Linked DNA regions of Homo sapiens. The protein of the gene in region 5 purifies or fractionates together with the protein of the main gene of each other region. This does not show direct contact. Each region holds a gene or a part of one and is shown on either strand. Other genes may lie near its edges.

What was found.
Region 1: the proteins of USP1 (region 5) and STAT2 purify together in Homo sapiens (affinity purification with mass spectrometry; 2 studies listed by BioGRID and IntAct, with this or other methods). This does not show direct contact.
Region 2: the proteins of USP1 (region 5) and SLC18A1 purify together in Homo sapiens (co-immunoprecipitation; one large-scale study listed by IntAct). This does not show direct contact.
Region 3: the proteins of USP1 (region 5) and UNC45A fractionate together in Homo sapiens (co-fractionation; one large-scale study listed by BioGRID). This does not show direct contact.
Region 4: the proteins of USP1 (region 5) and NFAT5 purify together in Homo sapiens (affinity purification with western blotting; one study listed by BioGRID). This does not show direct contact.
Region 6: the proteins of USP1 (region 5) and SHPRH purify together in Homo sapiens (affinity purification with western blotting; one study listed by BioGRID). This does not show direct contact.
Region 7: the proteins of USP1 (region 5) and WDR20 purify together in Homo sapiens (affinity purification with mass spectrometry, with the first as the bait; one large-scale study listed by BioGRID). This does not show direct contact.

What each region holds. Positions count from the first base shown.
Region 1 is NC_000012.12:56,346,608-56,350,107, forward strand, and holds part of STAT2 (signal transducer and activator of transcription 2), read right to left. Parts: coding exon 3,490-3,500; intron 3,030-3,489; coding exon 2,982-3,029; intron 2,903-2,981; coding exon 2,819-2,902; coding exon of another isoform or gene 2,765-2,818; exon of another isoform or gene 2,738-2,764; intron 2,655-2,737; coding exon 2,556-2,654; intron 2,477-2,555; coding exon of another isoform or gene 2,453-2,476; coding exon 2,317-2,452; intron 2,245-2,316; coding exon of another isoform or gene 2,198-2,244; coding exon 2,145-2,197; intron 2,017-2,144; coding exon 1,922-2,016; intron 596-1,921; coding exon of another isoform or gene 565-595; exon of another isoform or gene 378-564; intron 349-377; coding exon 212-348; intron 18-211; coding exon 1-17. UniProt on the Homo sapiens protein: Signal transducer and activator of transcription that mediates signaling by type I interferons (IFN-alpha and IFN-beta).
Region 2 is NC_000008.11:20,162,637-20,166,136, forward strand, and holds part of SLC18A1 (chromaffin granule amine transporter), read right to left. Parts: intron 2,472-3,500; coding exon 2,411-2,471; intron 2,329-2,410; coding exon 2,233-2,328; intron 1-2,232.
Region 3 is NC_000015.10:90,945,285-90,948,784, forward strand, and holds part of UNC45A (protein unc-45 homolog A), read left to right. Parts: intron 1-1,329; coding exon 1,330-1,630; intron 1,631-2,511; coding exon 2,512-2,606; intron 2,607-2,857; coding exon 2,858-2,999; intron 3,000-3,369; coding exon 3,370-3,500.
Region 4 is NC_000016.10:69,687,966-69,691,465, reverse strand, and holds part of NFAT5 (nuclear factor of activated T-cells 5), read right to left. Parts: intron 527-3,500; coding exon 378-526; intron 1-377. UniProt on the Homo sapiens protein: Transcription factor involved, among others, in the transcriptional regulation of osmoprotective and inflammatory genes. Binds the DNA consensus sequence 5'-[ACT][AG]TGGAAA[CAT]A[TA][ATC][CA][ATG][GT][GAC][CG][CT]-3'.
Region 5 is NC_000001.11:62,440,049-62,443,548, forward strand, and holds part of USP1 (ubiquitin carboxyl-terminal hydrolase 1), read left to right. Parts: intron 1-1,439; coding exon 1,440-1,560; intron 1,561-2,146; coding exon 2,147-2,251; intron 2,252-3,110; coding exon 3,111-3,271; intron 3,272-3,500. UniProt on the Homo sapiens protein: Negative regulator of DNA damage repair which specifically deubiquitinates monoubiquitinated FANCD2. Also involved in PCNA-mediated translesion synthesis (TLS) by deubiquitinating monoubiquitinated PCNA.
Region 6 is NC_000006.12:145,922,859-145,926,358, forward strand, and holds part of SHPRH (E3 ubiquitin-protein ligase SHPRH), read right to left. Parts: intron 3,439-3,500; coding exon 3,346-3,438; intron 1,989-3,345; coding exon 1,881-1,988; intron 928-1,880; coding exon 785-927; intron 1-784. UniProt on the Homo sapiens protein: E3 ubiquitin-protein ligase involved in DNA repair.
Region 7 is NC_000014.9:102,195,397-102,198,896, reverse strand, and holds part of WDR20 (WD repeat-containing protein 20), read right to left. Parts: exon of another isoform or gene 3,024-3,500; coding exon of another isoform or gene 2,993-3,023; intron 1,143-2,992; coding exon of another isoform or gene 1,050-1,142; intron 1-1,049. UniProt on the Homo sapiens protein: Regulator of deubiquitinating complexes. Activates deubiquitinating activity of complexes containing USP12. Anchors at the base of the ubiquitin-contacting loop of USP12 and remotely modulates the catalytic center of the enzyme.

The DNA.
Region 1 (3,500 bases), on a different chromosome or scaffold from region 5:
GTAGATGAGCACCTTGTCTGGAGAGTGAATGCAGGAACAGGCGGGCTTGAGGGAAGAGGCCGGGCCTTGGAGCTCTCTGCTCTGGCTGCCCAGTCCCAAACCAGCTGAGGGATTCAGTTCAGAGCCAGGGAAGCCAAGGGCAGGCAGAGGGGCAAGAGGGGAGCCAGGCAGAAAGGAGAGGCTGTGGGAATGGCAGGGCAGAGCAGCTGACCATCATCCTGGTGCTCCACCCAGGAGCAGGTAATGCCCCCTTCTGACGATTCACTGAAGCGCAGTAGAAAGGTGCCAGACATGGTCTTCTTCAGCAGCCGGCGCTCCTGGCTCCGACTCACAAAGCCCATGATGCGTCTGGAGCACAGAGAGCAGCTGTGAGACACCGCCCAACACCCTGCCCCACCAGGCCCCTGCCTCCCTGCTCCCCTTGTATGGAGAAACAGCCCAGGTTTGGAATCCAGGCTTTGGACCAAGCCCTGCCACTTAGCTTTTTTTTATCTTTTACAAGTCACTTCACTTTGCTGACAATAGCCACCTTCCGAGGGTTTGAAGTACGAAGATTCAGTGAGATCACACAGATGAACAGCACTTTTTTTTTTTTCTGGGAGACAGGGTGTCATTCTGTCACCCAGGCTGGAGAATAGTGGCATGATCACAGCTCACTGCCACCTCGACCTCCCGGGCTCAAGCAATCTTCCCACCTCTCAGCCTCCAGAGTAGCTGGGACCACAGGTGCACACCACCATGCCTGGCTAACTTTTGTATTTTTCGTAGAGACGGGGTTTCACCACGTGGCCCAGGGTAGTTTTGAACTCCTGGGCTCAAGTGATCTGTACTCCTCAGCCTCCCAAAATGCTAGGATTACAGGCATGAGCAACCACGCCTGGCCACAAATAGCACTTTTTTTTGGTTTTGTTTTGAGACAGAGTCTTGCTCTGTCACCCAGGCTGGAGTGCAATGGCACGATCTTGGCTCACTGTAACCTTCTCTCCTGGGTTCAAGCGATTCTCCTGCCTCAGCCTCCTGAGTAGCTGGGATTACAGGCGCCCACCACCACACCCGGCTAATTTTTGTATTTTTAATAGAGATGGGGTTTCGCCATGTTGGCCAGGCTGGTCTCAAACTCCTGACCTCAGGTGATCCACCCACCTCGGCCTCCCAAAATGCTGGGATTACAGGCGTGAGCCATCGTGCCTGGTCATGAATAGCACTTTTAAAAGCCAAATGCTACACAAGTTGGTAGGCAGTGTGGTGGAAAGAGCATGGGCTTGGAGTCACATAGGCCTGGATTTGAATATCAACTGTGTCCCTTGGGTAAGTTCTTTAACTTCTCTGAAACTCAGTTTCCTCACATGAAATGAAGCTGGCAAAACCCACCACTCAGCATGGTTGTAAGGATGAGATGAGAGAATTAATGAAGAGCACCCATCAAGCTCTGGAATGTAGGAGATGCTTCACAAACACTGTTTATGGCTATTATTGGTTGTTTTTTTTTTTTTTTTTTTGAGACGGAGTCTTGCTCGTCACCCAGGCTGGAGGGCAGTGACGCAATCTCGGCTCACTGCAAGCTCCATCTCCCAGGTTCACGCCATTTTCCTGCCTCAGCCTCCTGAGTAGCTGGGACTACAGGTGTCTGCCACCACGCCCGGCTAATTTTTTGTATTTTTAGTAGAGACGGGGTTTCACCGTGTTAGCCAGGATGGTCTCGATCTCCTGACCTCATGATCCGCCCGCCTCGGCCTCCCAAAGTGCTGGGATTACAGGTGTGAGCCACCACACCCGGCCTTATTATTGTTAACAAATGTGAGGAGACGTGGCCTGCACCTGTCTTTGCTCTCTCTCCCTGCTTGCCACGTGAGGGTGCAGAGACTCCACTCTCAAGCCCGGAAAGCACAAGCCCATGAGGGAAGGGTGACCAAGGCCTTACCCATCATTCCAGAGATCCTTCAGGTGGTCATGTACCAACTCCAGAATTTTGTCCAGCCATGTCCAGAATGGTAACTTGCCAGGAGGGCTCTCTCGCTGGAGGAGGAATGGAAAGGTAGCAAAAGCTGAGGAGTTGCCTCTGGTGTAGGGAAGGAGGGACGTGGGAAGGCCAGTATTTGGAATGTGGGCTAGATCCAGCAGCTCCACAGGATTCAGGGAGTTACCTTAGTGAAGTCAGCCCAGGACAATAATGGATCCTCAGTCCTACAGTTCTGCCCTGTGGGACAGATAGCCACAGACAGATGATGAGGGAAGCCAGGGGTCCTGGGATAGATAGGACAGAGGGACAGAAAAGACTAAGGCTGGGGAAAGGCTGAGAGAAAAGGAAATCTGTACCGAACAGCTTGTTTCTCAGCATGCTCAGCTGGTCTGAGTTGAGGCCTCGGCCAACATAGGAGGAGAACTGCCAACTGAGAGCAGGGCCCAGCAAGCTCCAGGGGGCCTTGGGGGGGTTGGAGAAGAACTGCTGGTTCTGCAGGGGTGGGAGCAGTGTAGGCTGGCTCAGAAGCAACCTATCACACCAAGCTTCCACACCCCTCCTCTCGCGCCTTGACCTGTCGGCCCCACTCCCCTACCTGAAGGTTTGGGCTGAGCAAATTGAACCAGAGAACTGAAGCCCAGGCAATTGAGAGCTGGTTCATGTTGGAAATAATCACCACAGGGAGGGTGTCCGTCTGGGGAGAAGACAGGAGTCACAGAGAGGGATGTGATGTTTCTAGCTGCAGGTATTTGTTAGAGGAAAGGAGTGCTAACCCACCCCAAGAGGCTTCTGTTTATCCCCTTCTTATGCCTTCTTCCAAAGCTGCTTTCTCTCTCCTTGCCCTCCATTTTCACTCACTTTCAGCTCCTGCTTCAGACCCTGGTAGGTATATTTGACCGTGAAGCTGATGATGTGCAGTTCCTCTGTCACACCTAGTGGCCCCTGGGACAGCCAAAGACATAGTCATCAGAAGGCTCTTTGGCAAGCTCCCCCTGCCTCGAGTCCTCTGTCCAGATCTCACCTTATTGCTGCCCTTTCCTGAACCACCTGAACGTTGCTCCACCAGAGTCTGTGAATTGAAGGGAAGGAGAGAAAATGCCAGAGTGGGCACCCTAGTGTCCCTGGAACCCCTGTTTGGCTTCAAGACCTCTCAAGCCCTGGGAACTTCCCCCAACCCCTGTTCCTTTGGACTAAAAGCAGGCCAGCTATGGTGGCTCATGCCTGTGATCCCAGCACTTTGGGAGGCTGAGGCGGGTGGATCACCTGAGGTCAGGAGTTCGAGACCAGCCCGACCAATATGGTGAAACCCTATCTCTACTAAAAATACAAAAATTAGCCGGGCATGGTGGTGTGTGCCTATAGTCTCAGCTACTCAGGAGGCTGAGACAGAAGAATTGCTTGAACCCGGGAGGCGGAGGTTGCTGTGAGCCAAGATGGCACCACTGCACTCCAGCCTGGGGGACAGAGTGAGACTCCGTCTCAAAAAAATAAAAATAGTAATAAAAGCATAGGTCACAAACTATTCTTACCAGGTAACCAA
Region 2 (3,500 bases), on a different chromosome or scaffold from region 5:
TTTGTAACTGTATAACAAGGATGGCCTTTACTCTAGTGTCCAATACCTTGTTCCTCATTTCTATCTGAGACCTCGTCAGAATGACCTTCACTGTCCATATTTCTATCAACATTCTGGTCACAACCTCTTAACCAATGTCTAAAAAGATTCAGACTTTCTCTATAGCTCTCCTCTTCTTCTGAGCCCTCACCAGAATCACCCTTAATGCCTTAACCACAGCAATACAGGCTCTTTCTAGCCTGCTCCTCCAAATTATTGCAGCCTCTACCAATTTTCCAGTTCCAAAGCTGCTTCCATATTTTCAAGTATTTGTTATAGCAGCAGCCCGGTTTCTCATTACCCATTTTCTGTCTTAGTCCATTTTCTGCTGCTATAATATAACAGAATACCAGAGTGCATGATTTATCAATGAAAGAGATTTATTTGGCTCAGGGTTCTGGAGGTTAAGAAGTTCAAAGGCAAGCCTCTAGTGTCTGTTTGGCCACCTGGGGAGTGCCTGGTTGCTGGATCATAACATGGCCAAAGGGGGTCACATGGAGAGAGAGCACACATGAGAGAGATGTAAAGGGAGCTGAACTCCCCTTTTATTATGACAAACTCACTCCCATGATAATGGCCTTAATCCATTCATGAGGGTGCTCCCATGATCTCATCATCTCTCAAAGGTCCCACTTCTCAAGACTGTTGCACTGGGGATTCAATTTGCAACATATAAATTTTGGGGGACACATTCACACCATATCAGAGGTCAAAGAGGTTAAATAACTTATCCGAGGTCACAATCAGTAAGTGACGTGGTCAGCATTCAAACCCAGGTGGACCTGGGCTATTTCCTCCCCTTGGTGATGCTACCTAGTATATGGTGGGCCACATAGCAAGCACTCAGAGGCAGACTACACATTACTTTCAAAAGCATGGACTCCTTTGGCTCCCAACACCTTTGAGGGATGCTCTTCATGTACAGCAGCGATTTTCTAGGTGTGATCACTGACCAGCTATATTAGCATCACCTGCAGACTTACTAGGGATGAAAACTTGTTTTGACTAAATTGCCTACTGTCTCCCAGCAATCAGAGTTTTAACAAGCTCTCTAGGTGATTCTGATGTAGTTGTTGGACAACCTTTGATGTCAGACTTTACAGACCAGATAGCATTGAGAAAGCTGTAAAAGATGGTGGCAACTGAGTGACTGGTAACTGAGTAATTGGTAACTGGCAACTGAGAATGGTCCCTAGGCTGCTGGGGAGGAGCTGCTCTGTGTTGTAGCTGCTCACTAGTATCGAGACCCTGAGTGGTCAGAGCCTTAGGGCAGGCGATGAATTATCTGCACTGAATACCGACTAACTCAATTAATCGTCATGGTCAAAAGCACTTGCAACCCATAAAAATTCAATTTGGCACTAGGAGTGCAGCTGGGAGTCTTGCTTAGAATTGCCCCCCCAAAATTAGATTTAGTGCTTTTTATTGCATGCTGAACTATATCATGTTCTTATCAGCTTCCCCTCTGGCCCCGTAAGCCTCTCCTCCCTGCAGTGATGGAGCAATTTGCACGTAGCCTTCCCTGTCCTCTTTCCTCAGGGTTCCTGGGAAGGGCTAGATCCTCCTCTCCAAGCTCCTCTCTAAGTCGCTGCATGAACAAAGGAAGCTGGAACCCTCTCTCCTGGGCCCATAGCTTTTCCTAAGTGAGTGCTACATACACCCCTTTTTAGAGGTAAAAAAGATAACCAAAGGGTAGTCTTGAGGATGAGGAGCTGAAGGGAGGAGAATGTGGATGGTAATGGTGCACATTAATATTGTACAGGGTACAAAGCATTTTCACCTCATATGTCATTTATTCATCCAATTTCTCTTGAACTAGATAGTATTTTGATGCTCATTTTAGCAATGAGAAAAGTGATGCTCAGAGGGTTTAAGGCATCTGCACAAGTTTTCACAGAAAATCAAAGGAGCTGAAACCAAAACCTGAATCTTTGGACTGGAAATCATTAATCATCCTACTACACAGCTAGGTATGTGACCTCTCCATAGCCCCTTTCATCCTCTCTCACCCTCCCCTTTCTCAGACTGCTTCTCTGAGGGACCACACACCCTCTTGGGCTTGATTCATGGGTGTGGACGTGGGAGGTCATTCTACAAAGGAAGCATGTTGTCCCTGTGTGACATTGAACGAAAGGACTCATGGCACCCACCTCCTCCTGCCAGGCCCTGAGCGGGGGTGCTGAGGTCACTTACCCAGCTGCCACTTGGGGGAGCACATGGTCTGCATCATCCAGATGGGCAGTGTGGGCTCCAGGATGGCCACCCCCATGTTGGCAAAGCAGATGGACCCTGGGGAGACTGTTCTGTGAGCAGCCGTGGCTGCTTGAAGCCCAGACACTCCCCGCCCAATGGGAGGTCATCGCCAGCTTACCTGCAGCCACCAGGATGTAAGGGTCTTTGAGAAGCATAAAGAGGGGAGTCCCCTTGGCACTCTGAGAACATGGATAACAAAAAATGTCCATTTGTACAGTGCATACATCTCTCCTATTTTCACAGAATCTGAGAAAGTACAATTATGGGCTTAGAGACCATCTACAGTATCTCCTTTACTGCAGAGACCAGGAACCCCAGTACAGGGAGAGAAAGTGACTTGTCTGATGCCACAGAGGAAGCTGGAGGCAGGACCCCTCCTGTGTGAAAGGTAGGCACTGTAATAGTCACAGATAGAGAAGCAACATATTCCAGCCATGGTTCCTGCGTTCACGTGACCATCAACAAGGTCAGAGTGGATTGGTAGCAAGGTCAGGGTTGGACAATAGATGTCTGGACTCCTGGTTTCCACTAGATCTCCCTGGTACTAATATTTGTCCTGGGAGAACCACAGGCAGAGCACCGAATCCCAAAAGCAAGCACAGAAGCCATAACTCAGAAAGCCTCTCAAGCTTTCTGAATTCTTCATTCTGATCATTTTGAGCCACACTGAACTAAGGTAGAAGAAGCAGGGTTAAAATACAGCCTAAACATCCAGGACCCACTCTCGTCAGGACACACTCTCATCTAAACTTGGTCGCCCCACCCTCTTTCCAAGCATCCCAGCAGTGCCTCAGCCATCATTATTGCCTTTGCCTAAACTACACGTTCTGAGCTTCTCCATAGTTCCATGTTCTACCCACTCTTTAAAGTCAAGCTTAAATGGCTCCTTCTTTTCTAGAGAGCTCCCTGACTCAGTAGCTGGGGCTTCTCTCTCTTCCAGACATCCTGAACACTATGTCCTAATCCTTCATGGTGTTTACTACTTTCTATCTTGTAATAGATTGGATCATTTTGGTATGATAACCCTCTCTGCACACACACAATAGTGGATTGATAAATTTAGAGATCCTAAAACTAAAGAGATCATTCGCTTACCCAATTATTATTCGAAGTAAAGAAACTGATGTAAATCATTAAAATATACATTTAAAAGTACAATAAACCCTTTGACCCAACAGTCCCACTTCTAGGAATTGACTCTAAAGATT
Region 3 (3,500 bases), on a different chromosome or scaffold from region 5:
AAACGCCATCAAGCACGTACTGGGTTTACCAAACACTTCCTACGCTTCTGTTCCCACACAGATGAAACATGACAGTCCTTTTTTTTTTTTTCTTGAGACAGAGTTTCACTCTTGTTGCTCAGGCTGGAGTGCAATGGCATGATCTCAGGTCACCACAACCTTCGCCTCTAGGGTTCAAGCGATTCTCCTGCTTCAGCCTCCTGAGTAGCTGGGATCACAGGCATGCACCACCACACCCAGCTAATTTTGTATTTTTAGTAGAGACGGGGTTTCTCCATATTGGTCAGGCTGGTCTCGAACTCCCGACCTCAGGTGATCCGCCTGCCTTGGCTTCCCAAAGTGCTGGGATTTTTTTTTTTTTTTTGAGATGGAGTTTCGCTCTTGTTGCCCAGGCTGGAGTACAATGGTATGATCTTGGCTCATTGCAACCTCCACCCTCCCAGGTTCAAGCAATTCTCCTGCCTCAGCTTCCCAAGTAGCTGGGATAATAGGCACCCACCACCACGCCTGGCTAATTTTTGTATTTTTAGTAGAGATGGGGTTTCACCATGTTGGCCAGGCTGGTCTCGAACTCCTGACCTCACACCTGAGGTGATCTGCCCGCCTTGGCCTCCTAAAGTGCTGGGATTACAGGCATGAGGACCGCGTCCAGGCGACAGTCCTTGTTCTTAAAGGAGATTATAGGCCAGGTGTGGTGGCTTACACCTGTAATCCCAGCACTTTGGGAGGTGGAGGCAGGTGGGTGATCACCTTAGGTCAGGAGTTCGAGACCAGCCTGGCCAACATGGTGAAACCCCATCTCTACTAAAAATACAGAAAATTAGCCAGGTGTGGTGGTGGGTGCCTGTAATCCCAGCTACTTGGGAGGCTGAGGCAGGAGAATCGCTTGAATCCAGGAGGTGGAGGTTGCAGTGAGCCGAGATCACGCCATTGCACTCCAGCCTTGGGGACAGAGTGAGACTCTGTCTCAAAAAAAAAAAAAAAAAAGAAAGAAAAAAAATTAAAGGAGCTTACAGCTGTTGGGGAGAAAACTGATGATAAATTATGAAATAAGCCGAATCATTTCAGAGCTTAAGTCCAGGAAGGGACATCACTGGTGGTATGGGAGTAACCTGTATTAGATACTATGTCAGGGAAGGCTTGAGTGAAAGTCGATAAAGAAAATCAGCCATTATTGTCCAGGTGGAAACGTCCTAGTCCTCCCATTGGCAGCTTTCCTGCTGTTTCTGCCCAAGTAGTGCAGGTGCCTGGCCAGTGGAGGGGAAGGGAGGGAAGAAGAGTCCCTTTATGTTGGCCTTGGTGTGACGGCTGTCACCCTGTGCCCCTCAGGAGCTGGTTTGAGGGCCAAGGGCTGGCCGGGAAGCTACGGGCCATCCAGACGGTGTCCTGCCTCCTGCAGGGCCCATGTGACGCTGGCAACCGGGCCTTGGAGCTGAGCGGTGTCATGGAGAGTGTGATTGCTCTGTGTGCCTCTGAGCAGGAGGAGGAGCAGCTGGTGGCCGTGGAGGCTCTGATCCATGCAGCCGGCAAGGCTAAGCGGGCCTCATTCATCACTGCCAATGGTGTCTCGCTGCTGAAGGACCTATATAAGTGCAGCGAGAAGGACAGCATCCGCATCCGGGCGCTAGTGGTGAGACGGTGGGCCTGGGGTGGGTGGGCAGGCAGCCAGGCAGGGGTCCTGGTCCAGCCGGTGTTGCAGGGTGTGGCCCCAGCACACTCCAGATGAAAATAAGGAATACTGTAATGCCAAAAAAATTAGCTAGGCTTGGTGGTGCATGCCTATAGGTCCAGCTACTTGGGAGGCTGAGGCAGGAGGATCACTTGAGCTCAGGAGGTTGAGGCTGTGGTGAGTCACGCATGTCACTGCACTCCTGCCTGGGCAACACAGCAAGACCCTCTCTAAAATAAATGGATGAATGAACGAGATTCTGGGCTTTCTTGTGGTGAGAGACATCGGCATGGCTCCTCCCTCCATGGGGCTTAAGACTGGGCCTGCAGGGGTCATGCAGTGTTCCTGGGAGCTGGTGGTTTGGGGGTTTGGGGACTACCTGGCCCTCCATGAGCCTGTTGTGGCTGTGCACCCTGTGGAAGCTGGTCTTCCTCCCTGGGGCACTCAGTCCTGGATTTCTCCATCCCATAAGGATTTGGCTGTGGCTGAAGCACCTGTCCTCTCCCCACATGCCTCTCAACTCCACCTGCAGAGGGCTTCTTTGTGCGACATGGAAGGAAACAGAGCCATTCTCAGTGTGGCCTGGGAAGGGGTGGGGCCCACGACTGTCCAGCGGCCAGCGCATCAGTGTCTGCAGATGCTGTGTCATGCGGCCACCCCAGTAGCTGATTTTCTTGCCACATGCTCTAGGTGGTGGTCTGGAGGGAGAGGGTGCTGATTTGTCTGTGTAGCTTCCAGGGGGCCATGGCAGAGTGCCAGGGAGGGAGTCCAAGCCAGGTGTGGAGGAGCTCAGCTCCTGCCTCCTTCCCCAGAGGCCAACTGGTCTTGCCCTCTTCCTCCAGGGACTCTGTAAGCTCGGTTCGGCTGGAGGGACTGACTTCAGCATGAAGCAGTTTGCTGAAGGCTCCACTCTCAAACTGGCTAAGCAGTGTCGAAAGTGAGTCATCTGGCCTTGCTGTGGTTCCCCACCTGTGGGGTAGATCTCAAGACACAGGGGTCTGGGTGGGGGTTGGGGCCTCCTCCGTCCTGCTCTCTGGCTCAGGCAGGGGCTGCAGTCTGGATCCTGGTACGTGAACTGCTTCTGTACATTGAGGGGATGCCCAAACCCTTGGTTTTTCCCCCTTGGCCTTGGTGTACCCCTCCGTACCCCCAATCCTGAGGGTCGTCCACTATCCTGCGTGTCCCCAGGTGGCTGTGCAATGACCAGATCGACGCAGGCACTCGGCGCTGGGCAGTGGAGGGCCTGGCTTACCTGACCTTTGATGCCGACGTGAAGGAAGAGTTTGTGGAGGATGCGGCTGCTCTGAAAGCTCTGTTCCAGCTCAGCAGGGTAGCTCTGTGGTTCCTGCCGTCAGCCTGGGGACACTGTCTAGGATTAGACCTTACCAGGCTTTCTCGGCAGGGCTTGGCCAATGGGGTCTTTTGACCCCAGGGAAGAGGGCTGGTGGCTGAGTGGCTGCTCTGTGTAGTGTGGGCATGTTGGCCAGCACCAGTGGTGTTAGCAAGGACGTTCTTCTTGGAGGAGCTGGGGAGGTCAAGTTTGTAAGCTCCCAAAGTCTGGGGCCTGGGAGTTTCCCGAATTCATCCTGTACCCAAGGGTCCCAGCTGAGGGTGGAATTGGGGGCCTGGGCCTGGGCAGCATTTATCTGAGTACTGCTCTGCCCCGGGATGCCCATGTGAATTCCTCTGTGTCCTGGCAGTTGGAGGAGAGGTCAGTGCTCTTTGCGGTGGCCTCAGCGCTGGTGAACTGCACCAACAGCTATGACTACGAGGAGCCCGACCCCAAGATGGTGGAGCTGGCCAAGTATGCCAAGCAGCATGTGCCCGAGCA
Region 4 (3,500 bases), on a different chromosome or scaffold from region 5:
CAGTAATTTTATGGTTCATGAAGAGCAGGTATCAAAATATCTCAATTTTGTGGCTCCTCAGTAACATTACAGGGGATAAGACAAGTAAAAAAAAGAAACAGAAAGTTATGGGAAAAGACTGGGAAAAAAATAAAAACATCTCTAATTCTGAAAATGCTAAAATTAGTACTTTCATCAATATCTCATACAACATATTAATTCCTCCCTTGTATATTGGAAGTCACTATGTGGGCAATTTTGCTGAAGTATAAAGCATTCCCTCTTTACAGCAAAATTCATTAAGTGCATCCAAAGTAAAAATAATGTTAAAAAAATAGGAAAAGTAAAAGACAGCAATTTTTATATAGGAGGTTTGTGCACTAGTCAATACAGCTTACCTTAAAAATAGTGGAAGATCTTTTTTCTGCTGTTACTTCCATTGGAGTAACATCTTCACTCTTAATCATACTGCTTGGTATGAGTGGAGTCATCAGGGCATTAGGGATAATATTTACCTTATCTAAATTACATCCAGTAGTTTTCATTGCTGCATATACACACACACAAAAAGAAAAGTTTAAAATCACAAAATTTACCAACTATTTCATTCTAAAATTTGTTATTAGCCATGATTTAAATGTCTATTTTTTTGATGCTACAATGGTAGCATGAGATACAAACCTGGTATATTAAGATATATCTTCCCTTTTATGAAGTGCATTGGCTGGGGGACCTCTGGAATGGGCCTGGAACTATAGCTTAAATATTAATAATAAGCTTAAGCAGTTCAATTACCAAGCTATATTCCCCAAGACGGTTCCAAGTGCCTTGAATCATACTACCCAACCTGACCAAGAGTATATTATAGGATACAGCTTAAAAATCTCCAGGAGGATAAAGCTACTCAATTACAAACTACACTCTCCTCTTAGCATTTAGCTATCTGACAATATAGTCTCAGAACTTCTTAAGGACTATGAGATTGTCAGAGCACTTCTTTCTTAAACTAAGTTCAAGCTTCTCATTAGAAAATACCACCCAGTGATTAATAAATTTTGCTTTTCTAAATTAAAAGAAAACTAAATTAATTAGAAAACTTGAATATGACAAGTTGACACATGGACACAATTCTCTTTTAGACTGGACTTTAAACATCTTTTTTTTTTTCCCCAGAAATAAGGGCTATTTTAGGTTTACAAACCAAATTTCCCAAGCAAAATGAAAAATTATTTCCCACCTCCTACTACCTCCATTTTCAGGAGTAGTTAGTTCTAGATTTATACCTAGAGGCAACATATAGCAAGATTCTACCACTTCACTATATCTACCTTTCCCCCTTGATTGCTTTTCTTTCTTCTTTTTTGTCTACTTGAGTCCGCAGTGGCACTCAGTGGTACCTACTGCTATTGCTAATGACAGTCTTCTGAGTTGAGCACATAGCCAAATCCTGATTTAAAAGTTTACTACCACTTGGAAGCTCTATGGAAACAGTCTTCAGAAAGCATAGCTGTTAAATTTCTTAATTTGATATCGAGAAGAAATCTTGGCTATAAAGAAGCTTTTAAAATGGCACATGGTCTATAAGTTGGATCGCTCCCTTCATAAATTTTTGTTGTTGTTGTCAGTCAATATGCTGCTGAAAGGCCAAGTGTGGTGGCTCATGCCTGCAATCCCAGCACTTTGGGAGGCCGAGGCAGGTGGCTCACTTGAGGCCAGCAGTTCGAGACCAGCCTGGCCAACATGGTGAAACTCTGTCTCTACTAAAAATACAAAAATTAGCAGGGCATGGTGGCACATGCCTGTAAATCCCAGCTACTTGGGAGGCTGAGGCACAAGAATTGCTTGAATCCAGGAGGAGGTGGTTGCAATGAGCTGAGATCGCTCTACTGTACTGCAGGCTGGGCAACGGAGCAAGACTGTCTCAAAATCTGCTGAAAGTAAATATTTTCATCTAAAAATATTTGCAATTTTCTTGTCTTACTTCAACTTGCCTCACAGCCATTTGGCTAAAAACCTAATTCCTATGAAAACTGATTATTTTGACAGAGGGGAAAGTGCTCATTTAACTTTTGACATTCCATGTTTTATTATTCTACCTAAGTAGTTTGAGAAATGAATCATTTATTCATGAGTTCTTTGGACCTATTTTCACCTAAATTCTAATACCAATACAATTCCCCTAACAACCAGATTTTTATTTTATTTTATCTTATTTGAGACAGGGTCTCTCTCTGTTGGTGGGAGTGCAGTGGTACAATCAGGCCTCACTGCAACCTCCACCTCCTGGGCTCAGGCAATCCTCCCACCTCAGCCCCATAAGTAGCTGGGACTACAGGCACACACCACCATGCCTGACTAATTTTTAAAATTTTTTTGTAGAGACAAGAGTCTCGTTACTTTGCCTAGGCTGGTCTTGAACTCCTGAGCTCAAGTGATCCTCCCTACTAGGCTGCCCAAAGTGCTGGGATTATAGGCGTGAGCCACCACACTCGGCCTACAACCTAATTTTGACTGAGACAAAACTTCAGATCATGCACAGGGCAGGCATTTAAAAGTAATCTAAGAATATCCCATAGAACATTTTGAAAAACCATTAGTGTTATCTTAAGTTGATCCTGTAATAGTCAACTACTATTCTTGCTTTTGAATTCCATTAGATCATGAGCTCTGTGAAGGCAGATGTTGTTATCACCTGTTGCACAGTAGGTAATCAACAAATGTTTGCTGAATGAATGAAGAAAATAATCTTACTTTAGCTTTATCACTGTCAATTTAGTTTGTTGTGGATTGTTTGGTTAATCCTATAAAAATAAAAATATGGGCCAGGCGCATTGGCTCATGCCTGTAATCCCAGCAATTTGGGAGGCAGAGGTGGGTGGACCACGAGGTCAGGAGTTCGCCAGCCTGACCAACATGGTGAAACCCCGTCTCTACTAAAAATACAAAAAAAGTAAAAATAAAAAAAAGCCAGGTGTGGTAGAGGGCACCTGTTACCTCAGCCTCTGGAACCCAGGAGGCAGAGGTCAGAGGTTGCAGTAAGCCGAGACCACGCCACTGCATTCCAGCCTGGGCAACAAAGCAAGACTCCATCTCAAATAATAATAATAATAAATAAAAATAAAAATATACAGTCTGTATTTTTCTTTTTAAAAATATTCATTCATTCATTCATTCATTTACTCACTCATTCATTCAATTAGAGACAGGGTCTCACTCTGTTACCCAGGCTGGAGTGAGTACCTGCAGCCTCAAACTCCTGGTTTTTTTTTTTTTTTTTTTTTTTTGAGACGGAGTCTCGCTCTGTCGCCCAGGCGGGACTGCGGACTGCAGTGGCGCAATCTCGGCTCACTGCAAGCTCCGCTTCCCGGGTTCACGCCATTCTCCTGCCTCAGCCTCCCGAGTAGCTGGGACTACAGGCGCCCGCCACCGCGCCCGGCTAATTTTTTTTGTATTTTTAGTAGAGACGGGGTTTCACCTTGTTAGCCAGGATGGTCTCGATCTCCTGACCTCATGATCCACCC
Region 5 (3,500 bases):
ACATTTCTGTACTTTAAAAATTCTACAGTAAAGCAGCAGTGAACTTGGTTGACAACTCCAGTCTGACTTGATAGTCTGTAGCGGCACAAAAAAGTACGCTTCAGTGTACTTCTTAGTCAAATCTAGCAGTTTATAGTAGGAACAGCAAAACTGGTGGTTCCCCGTAGGAATCACATCGATAATGTTTAACTCATGTTAACACTGTGCTCAGCCATTTAGACTAACTTGGAGAAATATTTGTTGACTAAAATTGTCTTTCTGAGTTTAAATTTGATTATTTGTAGTGCAAAACATCTGTGTAGGGGTAAAAGGTTTTATATATATATATATATATATTTGTTTGGTTCAGAAGACTTGACAGTTATAAGACATTTTAAACTCTAGTCATGTAACTAGTCATACCTGTTGGAGGCATATGATTGCAAATTATAAAAATAAACTTTAAGTAATGCTTTTGATGCAAATAAATTATTTAGCTACAGAAAATAAATCAGAACAAAGTGGAATACTTTATTCCACCACCAGCAGCTCTAGCTGGAGTCTGTACTACTCCCTGTTTAACATATAGGCACTCTGCTGGGTGACTAAGGTGGATTTGGTCCCATGTGTTAATTTCCTAATAGCTATCAATAACCAGTTGAGGAGATTTGTGAGAGTGAAGCTTTTGTTTATCAGCATTCATACTTCTGAATACTTTGAGGTGCTAGAGTAATAATAGCTAGCAATCGTAAAATAAATGAAAATATTGGAAGGACCTAGTGGTTTTTTTGTTGTTGTTGTTAAAGAAGTAAAAGAATAGTAAACTTAAAGCATTTGTGTTTTGAGATGGGGTCTCCTTGTGTTGCCCAGGCTGGTCTTGAATTCCTGGGCTCGAGCAGTCCTCCCAAGTAGCTGGAATTACATGTCAATGCCCCCACACCCACATTCTGAACATTTTATTTTTAAGTGAGGGATAGCTACATATTTTTTTTTTTTTTACCAGCAGGAAGTCATATATAATTCTCTTCACAGACTTTCTTTCCTCTGAATTCTTATTAATAGAATCTTACTTAGTGCAGCCTCTCCCAAATATTGTCATGGTTAGTTTATTCCCAGGTTTCTGTTCAGTTAAACTATTTGATTAAAATGTCAAAGTAGATGAAACAAATCATAGTCTCTCAGTTCCTCAATTTTCTACTCTGTAAAATAGGATTAACATCCTTTTAAGGGAATTGTTCTGTGGCTTGTTATGTGTAATAATGTTTTTAAATGCTTTTAAAACTTTTATTCTGGGCATATAGCAATTTTTGAGCCTGTATTTCTTAAAATGTCATCTGAACAAGATTCACATACTTTTCAGATTATACAACTTTTGGGAAAAGACTAAATCTACAGAAGTAATATTTTCACCTTGTTTCTTTAAGATAACTACTTATCGTTCTCCCTTCTATATTTCATAGTGATCAAGTTGTTCCTGCAGCACAGTCTTCACCTATAAACTGTGAGAAGAGAGAAAACTTGTTACCATTTGTGGGACTGAATAATCTCGGCAATACTTGCTATCTTAATAGTATACTTCAGGTAAATTGACAATTTTGCTATATCATAAAGCTTTAGTAGGCAAAGATTGATGTAGCATTTAATGTTTTTGAGTTATTGGAGGACTTTAATGTCCATACTGTCTTTGCCTTTGATTGTTAATAAACCAGAATAGGCTAAAATAATAAGTTACATGTTATTAAACTTCCTTTGGGGTAAGAGAAAATGATAGACTAAATAAAGGTGGGATAGCAAAATTGAGTAGACCTTAAGTGGAAGGTCAAACCTTTAATTTCTTTCTCTGATTCCTGGTGCTACAGTGTGATATATGTCTTATCCCTTGGAAGTAACGTTGGCATTGTGTTGTGTGTCCGTTGGCGCTGTGTTGTGTGTCCTTGTAACCTTAAAGTCTTAGCAATATCTGCCCAGGTGCAGTGCTTTGTGCTAATGAGGGAAGACACTGGGCTACTACTGATGAAGTGGAGAACAAATTTTGACACAAAACTTAATCTCAGAATTTTAGGGTAATACATGTTAAAAGTGCTCTATAGAAAGCATGATGTTGTTTTAATGATTTTACGTGTATTGTTTGTTCAGTAAACACTTAAGACAATCTCACTTTTTATAGGTATTATATTTTTGTCCCGGTTTTAAATCTGGAGTAAAGCACTTATTTAATATTATTTCAAGGAAGAAAGAAGCTCTAAAGGATGAAGCCAATCAAAAAGACAAGGTAAGAAAAATAAAGAACAGAAAATAATGTAAAAAGCAAAAGTAAATTAATGGAAATTTACTTGCCTGGAAATGAAGAGGACTGGGGGGGTGGATGACAAAGATTATTTCTCTGTTAGCGAGCTATTGTCAGGCAATTATTTTTCATTCTTTCAAGGTGGCTAACTAGATAATTCCCTTTTACAATGTTTGCTCCTGTAATCTGTGTATCAAACTTTTGTTACTTGTATACTATATATTACTGTATACTATAATCACAATATGTTATACCCATGTACAACTTATTTACCCATTGTGTTTTCAAATTGAGTTAAAATTTAAATACAGTGTATTTAAAGAAATCTTTAACTTCCATAATTAAAAAACCATTGTAATTCACATAAATAGTAATTCATAATTCCTCTTAAAATTACAAAAAAGACCAGACGTGGTGGCTCATGCCTGTAATCCCAGCAGTTTGGGAGGTCAAGGTGGGTGGTGGATTGCTTGAGCGCAAGAGTTTGAGACCAGCCTGGGTAACATGGCAAGACCCTGTCTTTACTAAAAATACAAAAACTAGTAGGGCGTCATGGTGTGAGCCTGTAGTTCCAGCTAATTGGGAGGCTGAGGTGGAGGATTGCTTGAGCCCAGGAGGTTGAGGCTCCAGTGAGCCGCGATCAAGCCACTGCACTCCAGCCTGGGCGACAGAGACCCTGTCTCAAAATAAAAAAATAAAAAATAAGGCTTATTTGTACATCCCTTAAAATTAGTGCTATTATGCAACTTAGAAAATCTAGTATTCTTAAGTGAGACAAAGACAAAGGGGGAAGGTACTTAATTTGTTCATAAAATTATTGGTTTGTGTGTTTCTTTCTTGACAGGGAAATTGCAAAGAAGATTCTTTGGCAAGTTATGAATTGATATGCAGTTTACAGTCCTTAATCATTTCGGTTGAACAGCTCCAGGCTAGTTTTCTCTTAAATCCAGAGAAATATACTGATGAACTTGCCACTCAGCCAAGGCGACTGCTTAACACACTGAGGTATAGCCTATAATATAATTTTAGGGTTTCAATTTAGCTACTTGTTTATATCCTTGGAGGAGAATGACATGCGAAGAAACAGGAATAAAGGGCAAGGAAAGTAGAAACTCTAGGTCCACAGTCCTTTATATCCCAGAGACTCTGAATACTGGAAATTTTTTTCATAAATTTGGTGCTAAATTCGTTAGATCTGAACATATTATATGAGGCTTTTTATAGTCATTCATAT
Region 6 (3,500 bases), on a different chromosome or scaffold from region 5:
ACACAATACAAAGAAAAGAATAATAGGTCAATTTCCTCAAATTCAGAGAATGGTTGCCAAACAAAGTGTTAAAGAAACTGTTTGCTGTTTTTTTTTTTTTTAACAGCAACATTTGAGTGAGTTTTCCTTCAGAATGTATTCAAAGTATAATATTGGGCTGTCTACCGTAAAAGATACCAAAAAAATTTGATAGTCCTGTGCTCAGGAACTGAAAAAGAGCATGAAAAATGTATGTCTGTCTCAGATATCTTTGAAAGTGTACGACTGCCACATTCTTCCGTTTTAAGCCTGACTACAGATAGCCTTCCTGACATCCTTGCTCTATATGAGGAGGTGCCTGCAGGATGAAACATAAAAGCAGAATATTGGGAAGAAAGAAGAAAAATGGCTAAGAGTTATATTCCTTGGTTGAATATATATATATATGTATATATACTTAATTAAATCTGTAATTATGCACTATATACGAGGCACTTTGCCAAGCACTTTTCCTGTATAATTTCAATAGTTACTAATGTGCTCACATTATGAAGTGTAAAATATTAAAGTAACTAAAGTAACAAAGGTAGGTCGCAGTTAGGAGTTAAACCCAATTATAGTACCTATAACCATTTTGATAAACTGTGAATAAAAAAGGCTGCAAAAAAGAAGTATGAATGTGTCTGTATAGGTTTATGAATGGAGAAAAAAAGCCGGTAATAATGAGAAATTAGAAACTAGAAAATACAAGGATTTCTTTGCTTTTAAAATTATGAGTAGATACTTTTTCTTCCTGTTTTCTTACTTCTCTGACATAGAAAGCTTGCCAGTTTGTTGCTTGTAGTTGCTGGTTATTTCATTTCGCACTCGCTGAACTAGCTCCTCATCAATAGTAAATTCTATTGCTCTGTGGATCACATTTAGCCACCAAGGAGAATTAGAATGAATCTGTAAAAAAGGTAGCAGTTAATCAATTAATACATTTTTTTTAGTACTCACTAAGCTTCCATCACTGGGCAGGGTGATGCCAAAATTCAAAGAAAGTAATAAATGCTATTCTCAAAGGGACTATCACAGAGGGGAGACGAGTATACATATTCCATGTACAATGCTCGCTTCCTCTTTTGAAAATATAATTAAAGAGAAACCCCTATTTCCTAACTACTCTGGATAAATGGGAATTTATTGAATGCATTTATATAACAAAGCTGTAACTAAAAAAACTGTTTACGCCAAATGAAAATTCAATACTCAATCTATATGTGTGAAAAGGTCACAGGTCTCTTTATCAGCATAAGAAAGAAAGCCTTCATTCTAATCTTTAACTAACTGAACCAGATTCTACTTAATGAATAATCCACAATAACTCACAAAATTATATCCCAGAATACTAAATAATGAATGAATTAGAAAGACAAAAATTTGCAACACCTGATTTAAAAACTGAAAATAAAAGTGTATTTGTGTAACCTCTTTAGATTTTGCTGCTGATTTCATAAAACTGAAATTTTAGAAATGACAAGTGGTATATATTCTGCAGGAAAAATACCTGTGGTTCTAATGTATTAACATTTTAAAACATCTCAGAAACAAGATAAAAAGGAGGTTATAGAAGTCTTTACTTTCTTCAAAAGACAACTGTTATATACTCATGGTAAGAGAAAACCCATGAGTTCAAAAGAAAGAGAACTCAAAATAGTTGACTTATTTATGCATCTGTTCACTCAACCAATAAATCATTGCTAACAGTAAAATAAACTTGTATTGTGGGTCAGGCAATGTGCTAGGTGCTAAGGATTTCAAAATGTATAAGAAATTCAAGTTTCTCCCCACCAAAAAACCAAAACTCAAAATGATATCTGGAGGCAAATACAAGTAAGAAACACTGCATTTTGGCATACCTTTCTTTGAAGCTCATGGATGGTCTGCTGCACAGGATATAAAGCTTGCTGGGCTTCAGCAACTTCTGTATTACACTTGCTCATGTAGTGCTCTCGCAGCTGTTTGGCCTGTGTTGAAACAGAGAATATAAACTTTCACTCCCAATCTAGAATATAATTCAGTATGATGTTTCAAGAAGAATGGGTCATTTTATACATTTAAAGCTACTTAACTGCATTTAAACATAAAAGTCCAAGTATACTGTAGAGAACATAAAAGTCACGCTAAAAATTCCTTATATATGGAAGTTAACAAAATTTACTTGTCCAAGTAACAAAATTTCAGAAACACCGAATATTTGTTTGCCAATTTCTTATTTAATTTTTTTTTTTAGTTAGAATAAGCAAAGAGGGGAAAAAAAGAACAGTAATATTTCAAATGATAGGCAAAGCAAAGACACCTTTCTAAAATTTGGCTAATTTAGTTATTAAAATTCCTTAGTTACTGCAGTTTAAAAATAATCCTTGAGAATACACAGTAACACAGGTGTTAGGAACTGAATTTTGTTTCCCCAAAATTCATATGCTGAAGCCCTAAGAAAGTAGATTTTAAATGTTCTCACTACACACACACACACACACACACACACACATGCATGCAATAAAAATAAAGAGGTAATTGATTTAGTTTGATTTAGCTATTCTAGTGTCTACATACATCAAAACATCAGTCTCTACTCATGAATAGATAAAATTTTTGTTAATTAAAATAGTTTACCAGGGCACCTCCGCCCCCAAAACAACCAGTGCAAAAAGGCTGTGCTTATTTATATAATCTCATTTTTTATCCTGTTGACTCAAATAAAGCCTCCACTTACAGGTTCAATACATTTCAAACATACCTACTCTTTTGATTTTAGCTCTTTAATGTTTAACAACAGCAAAAATCCCTGGAAGAATCTGCATAATAAGCTATTAACAATTTATAGTAAAATAATTTATAATATCACTCTTTTCGATGTCATTCTTTTCAAAAAGAGGCGACACTTTTTGTAGAGGAAACTTCTTTGGGAGAACTACCACCAAAAATTTGACTTTATTTACCCCCTTAAAAAATACACAGAAATGTGGAGAAAGTGCAAAAGTTTGTATATTTACTAAGCTACCTCTTTTGTAGATCTGCCATGAGATCAAAGTTTCTTTTTTAAAACTCATTTATTTACATCCCATTCTGTTGGCTACCAACAGCCATATCTACAACAAGCATTTATCACATAACTGCAGGTAGATCAGCAGAGAAGCCAAATAATACGTACTGCTGCCATTCTCTGCTACCCAAAATCACAACAAAATTCGAAACATCAAAGTAACAGGAAAACATGATTACATTTATTTGTATGTTGTATGTCCTAGGATATATCAACTATATGGAGCATAAAGTTTGAAGAAAATATACTTTTATAGACAGAATGAAAAAAATAATTACCTCTTCCTCAAGTCGGCCATCACGCAAGGTAGGTGGTATCCCTGGGTGCCTGGCTATCAACAATTCCATCAAGTTATGGGTAGCATGAAGTCTCTACAAACATATCAAAGGCAGTAATTATGACAGTCAATGCAGAAGACTCTGAAGAGAACCTA
Region 7 (3,500 bases), on a different chromosome or scaffold from region 5:
AGCAAGTACAGACCAGAACCTCTGATCTTCCCCTCCATTCCCTGACAACTGCTCCTTTCCCAGTCTCACCCAACACAGCAAGAGACACCCAGAAACCTGATTTATTAATACACCTTTCCAATTCAGTCTCCAAAAAGCAGCCAGGGTACCTTTCAAAAACACCAATCTGCCTGCCTTGTGCACCTGCTCCCTTCTAAGGAATCCCGTACTTCAGGCTAAGAAACAAATCTGGATCAGGCCGTAGGTGATGTGGCCCTCCAATCTCATGCCCTTACTTCATGCCACCTTCCCCAGGTAAACCGTCCTTCTTTCAGTTTCCTTGGGCTCAAGGGCCCTCATGTGCTATTCCTTTTGCAGGAAAGCTCCATCTCCAGTTCCTTACCTGGTTGGCCTTCTTCTCACATGAGGCACAGCTTAAAACATAGCACTTCGTCCGAGAGATGTCCTCTGCCTCCCAGTTTAAAGTAGACCTCTGTGTTGGCCAGGCGTGGTGGCTCACGCCTGTAATTCCAGCACTTTGGGAAGCTGAGGTGGGTGGATCACTTGAAGCCAGGAGTTCCAGACTAGCCTGGCCAACATGGTGAAATCCCGTCTCTACTAAAAATACAAAAATTAGTCAGGTGGCCTATAATCCCAGGTACTTGGGTGGGTGAGGCACAAGAATAGCTTGAACCTGGGAGGTGAAGGTTGCAGTGAGCCAAGATTGCGCCACTGCACTCCAGCCTGGGTGACAGAGTAAGACTCTGTCTCATAAATAAATAAATAAATAAATAAATAAATAAATAAATAAATAAATAAAGTAGACCTCTGTGATTCTCTCCCTTTCTTGGGCCTGCTCTCTTGCCTCTTACATCACAAAGTGTCACCATCTGTGGTCACCAGTGTTTCGGGGGTGGTGCTATTATACCTCTCTTCCCTCCTGAGAGGGGTCACAGGAGGGCAGGTTTTGCCCACTGCTGCAGACCCAGTGCTGGGCATGTGGTAGGTAGTCAAGGTCCTGAATGAATGAAACAATGGCCGCAACTCTAGTTCAAGCCCTCAGCTCTCACCTGGACAGTTACTAGAGCCTCCTCACTGGTCTTGCTACCTTCATTCTGTCTTTCTTCATTCCAATCCACCTTCCACAAGTGCTGACAAGAGTTCTAAAAAAACACATTTGATCCTGTCACTCCCTTCATTAAAAGGCCAAAGGTTCCCCCACATCTTCCAGTGTCAGTTCCAAATTGCTTCACGTGACATGAAAAGGCTTTTATAAGACAAGCTGGTTCCAATTTATCTTTCCAGCTTCGAACTCTGACACTCCAAGTCCCACACTGTGATGTGGCCAAGCTGTTACTGGATGTTCTTTCACATGCCTAGTTGTTCCTCCAGCTTTGAAGGCCTTCCTTACCCTCCTCTAATGACTATGTACCCTTTAAGACCCACATCAAACATCACTTTCTAAAAGCATTTCTTGGAACTCCCCCAGTGAACTTAACATTTTAAAAAACTTTAAAATGCATACTAAAGAATTCCTGCGGCAGCTAGCCCTTGGTATTTTGTTCATATCGCTGTGCTGACACGTGCCCAGTACTCTCTGTCCATTCTTACTAAACTGTGAGCTCCCGGAAGGGCAAGAGCTCATCTGGCAACCATGCATGGTGGGTCCTGTAACCAATGAGTTTCTGGAATTAATTTCTGGTTCCAACTCTATCATCAACTTGCTACCTGATCTGGACAATTCACTTATGTGCTCTTTGACTATTTCCTCATCTGTAAAATGGGAACAACTCCCCACCCTCCCTGTAGAGGCCATAGGTAAAAGTGCCTTGAAACCTGTAAATGTCACACCACAGCAAAGCACGACACGATGACTACTTCACCACCATTCCTGGCACTCTCTAAGGAACAAACCTCCGGTGACCCTTGCTCTTAGACATTCTGACCAAAATCTGATAAAAATGTATCCACATGGCCAGAGGATCTCCTTACTATGAAGGGCAATCGATTTCAGCCTCAAGCTGTAAATGCAAAGCTGGCATTAAACCACACACAGTCTTAGCATTCTAAATAGCAATTTCTCAAATAAAATGTAAAGTGAGTATGAGATAACTCATGCTTAAATCATGAAGAATGAGGAGCTGCCTTCCAGCCTGCAACTCCCAGTCACCAGGGCAGGGATAGTTCTGGCCAATGCAGCCTGAGTGCTCCCAGAGCCCTGAGATTCTGGGGACGTGTGGTCTCCAACTCCCTGCCCTCCCCCTGCCACGACACACAAAACTTTCTTGTTCTCTAAGCGGCATTCTGTACCATCCTCGGCCAGGGCTGCCTCCGGGTCTTGTTTACTAACAGCCCTTACATGGCTCCAATCCCTGCCCCCTCCAATCACACTCTCCCCTACCTAAACAATAAAAACCCACAATGATTCCAAATTCACAATTTCTGCTAACAGTGCAGAGGAGGCCAATTTTGTGCGCTGCTCCCCAAACTCAGCACCAAAAAAATAATCATCCAGCTACTTAGAAATCACTTCTGCAGATGATACTAAAAAAACATCTAGGTAAATAAAATATTTTCTGCTTAACTTTTTTTTAATGGAAAATGGGATTAAATACTTTTCCTCTACAATCTGTCAGTCCAGATGGCAAGTTTTGTTTCCAGTCAACTCAGAGGAAACTAGAAGAGATGGCATGGTTCATAAGATCTTATCAAATCCACTGGCAATGTCAAACAGGAGCACCCTGGGTGGATACTGATTTGCATGAATAGCAAGTACCATAACTGCAAAAGAATCCAAATTTTAACTGCCATTTGTCAATTTGAATTTTCTTCCCCAAACAAAATTATTTCTTAAAAACCATACTCTATAATGTGTTTTTGTTCCAAGTTAATGATGTTAAAACCATGCAACAATGCAAAAGGGAGGGGGTCCCACATAGCCTGACCCTTGCGCCTCAGGGGCAAGGTCCCAAGTAGAGATTGGAACCCAGGGCTTCTAACTCAGCAAGCCTACCTTATCTTTTCCACTTGGTAGAAAAGTCATACTGAAACAGACGAGGAAGAATATTAAATATGAAATAGCAATACTTGAGGCTGAAAGATGCTCCAACAGCTTTAAAAAATATAATCTACTTGGCAATTTCTATATGCCACATTTAACAGTCCTGACATGTTCCTGAACAGACAGCTCAGATATCTCAGGCTCTTTCCAGAATGAAATTGAAGATACTAGAAACCCCAGTACATACTACAACACTGGCAAAAGCTATGTCATGTGACCAAACTTTAAGCGCCAGGATTTCCAACTATGTCAAAGATGAGTTTACAGTAACTATTTTCAAGAGCAAGTGAAGTACTCCTTAGCCAAATGACTGTCAAACATACATACAAAAGCTTTGGCTACAATTTAAGCAGCCTAAGGAAATGTCATCAAGTTCTTTGATCTGCATGAAATGTTCTGGTGATGTGAACCAACTTTGGAATTCCACATTTTCTTACTTAAATTATAAATACCGAGTTAC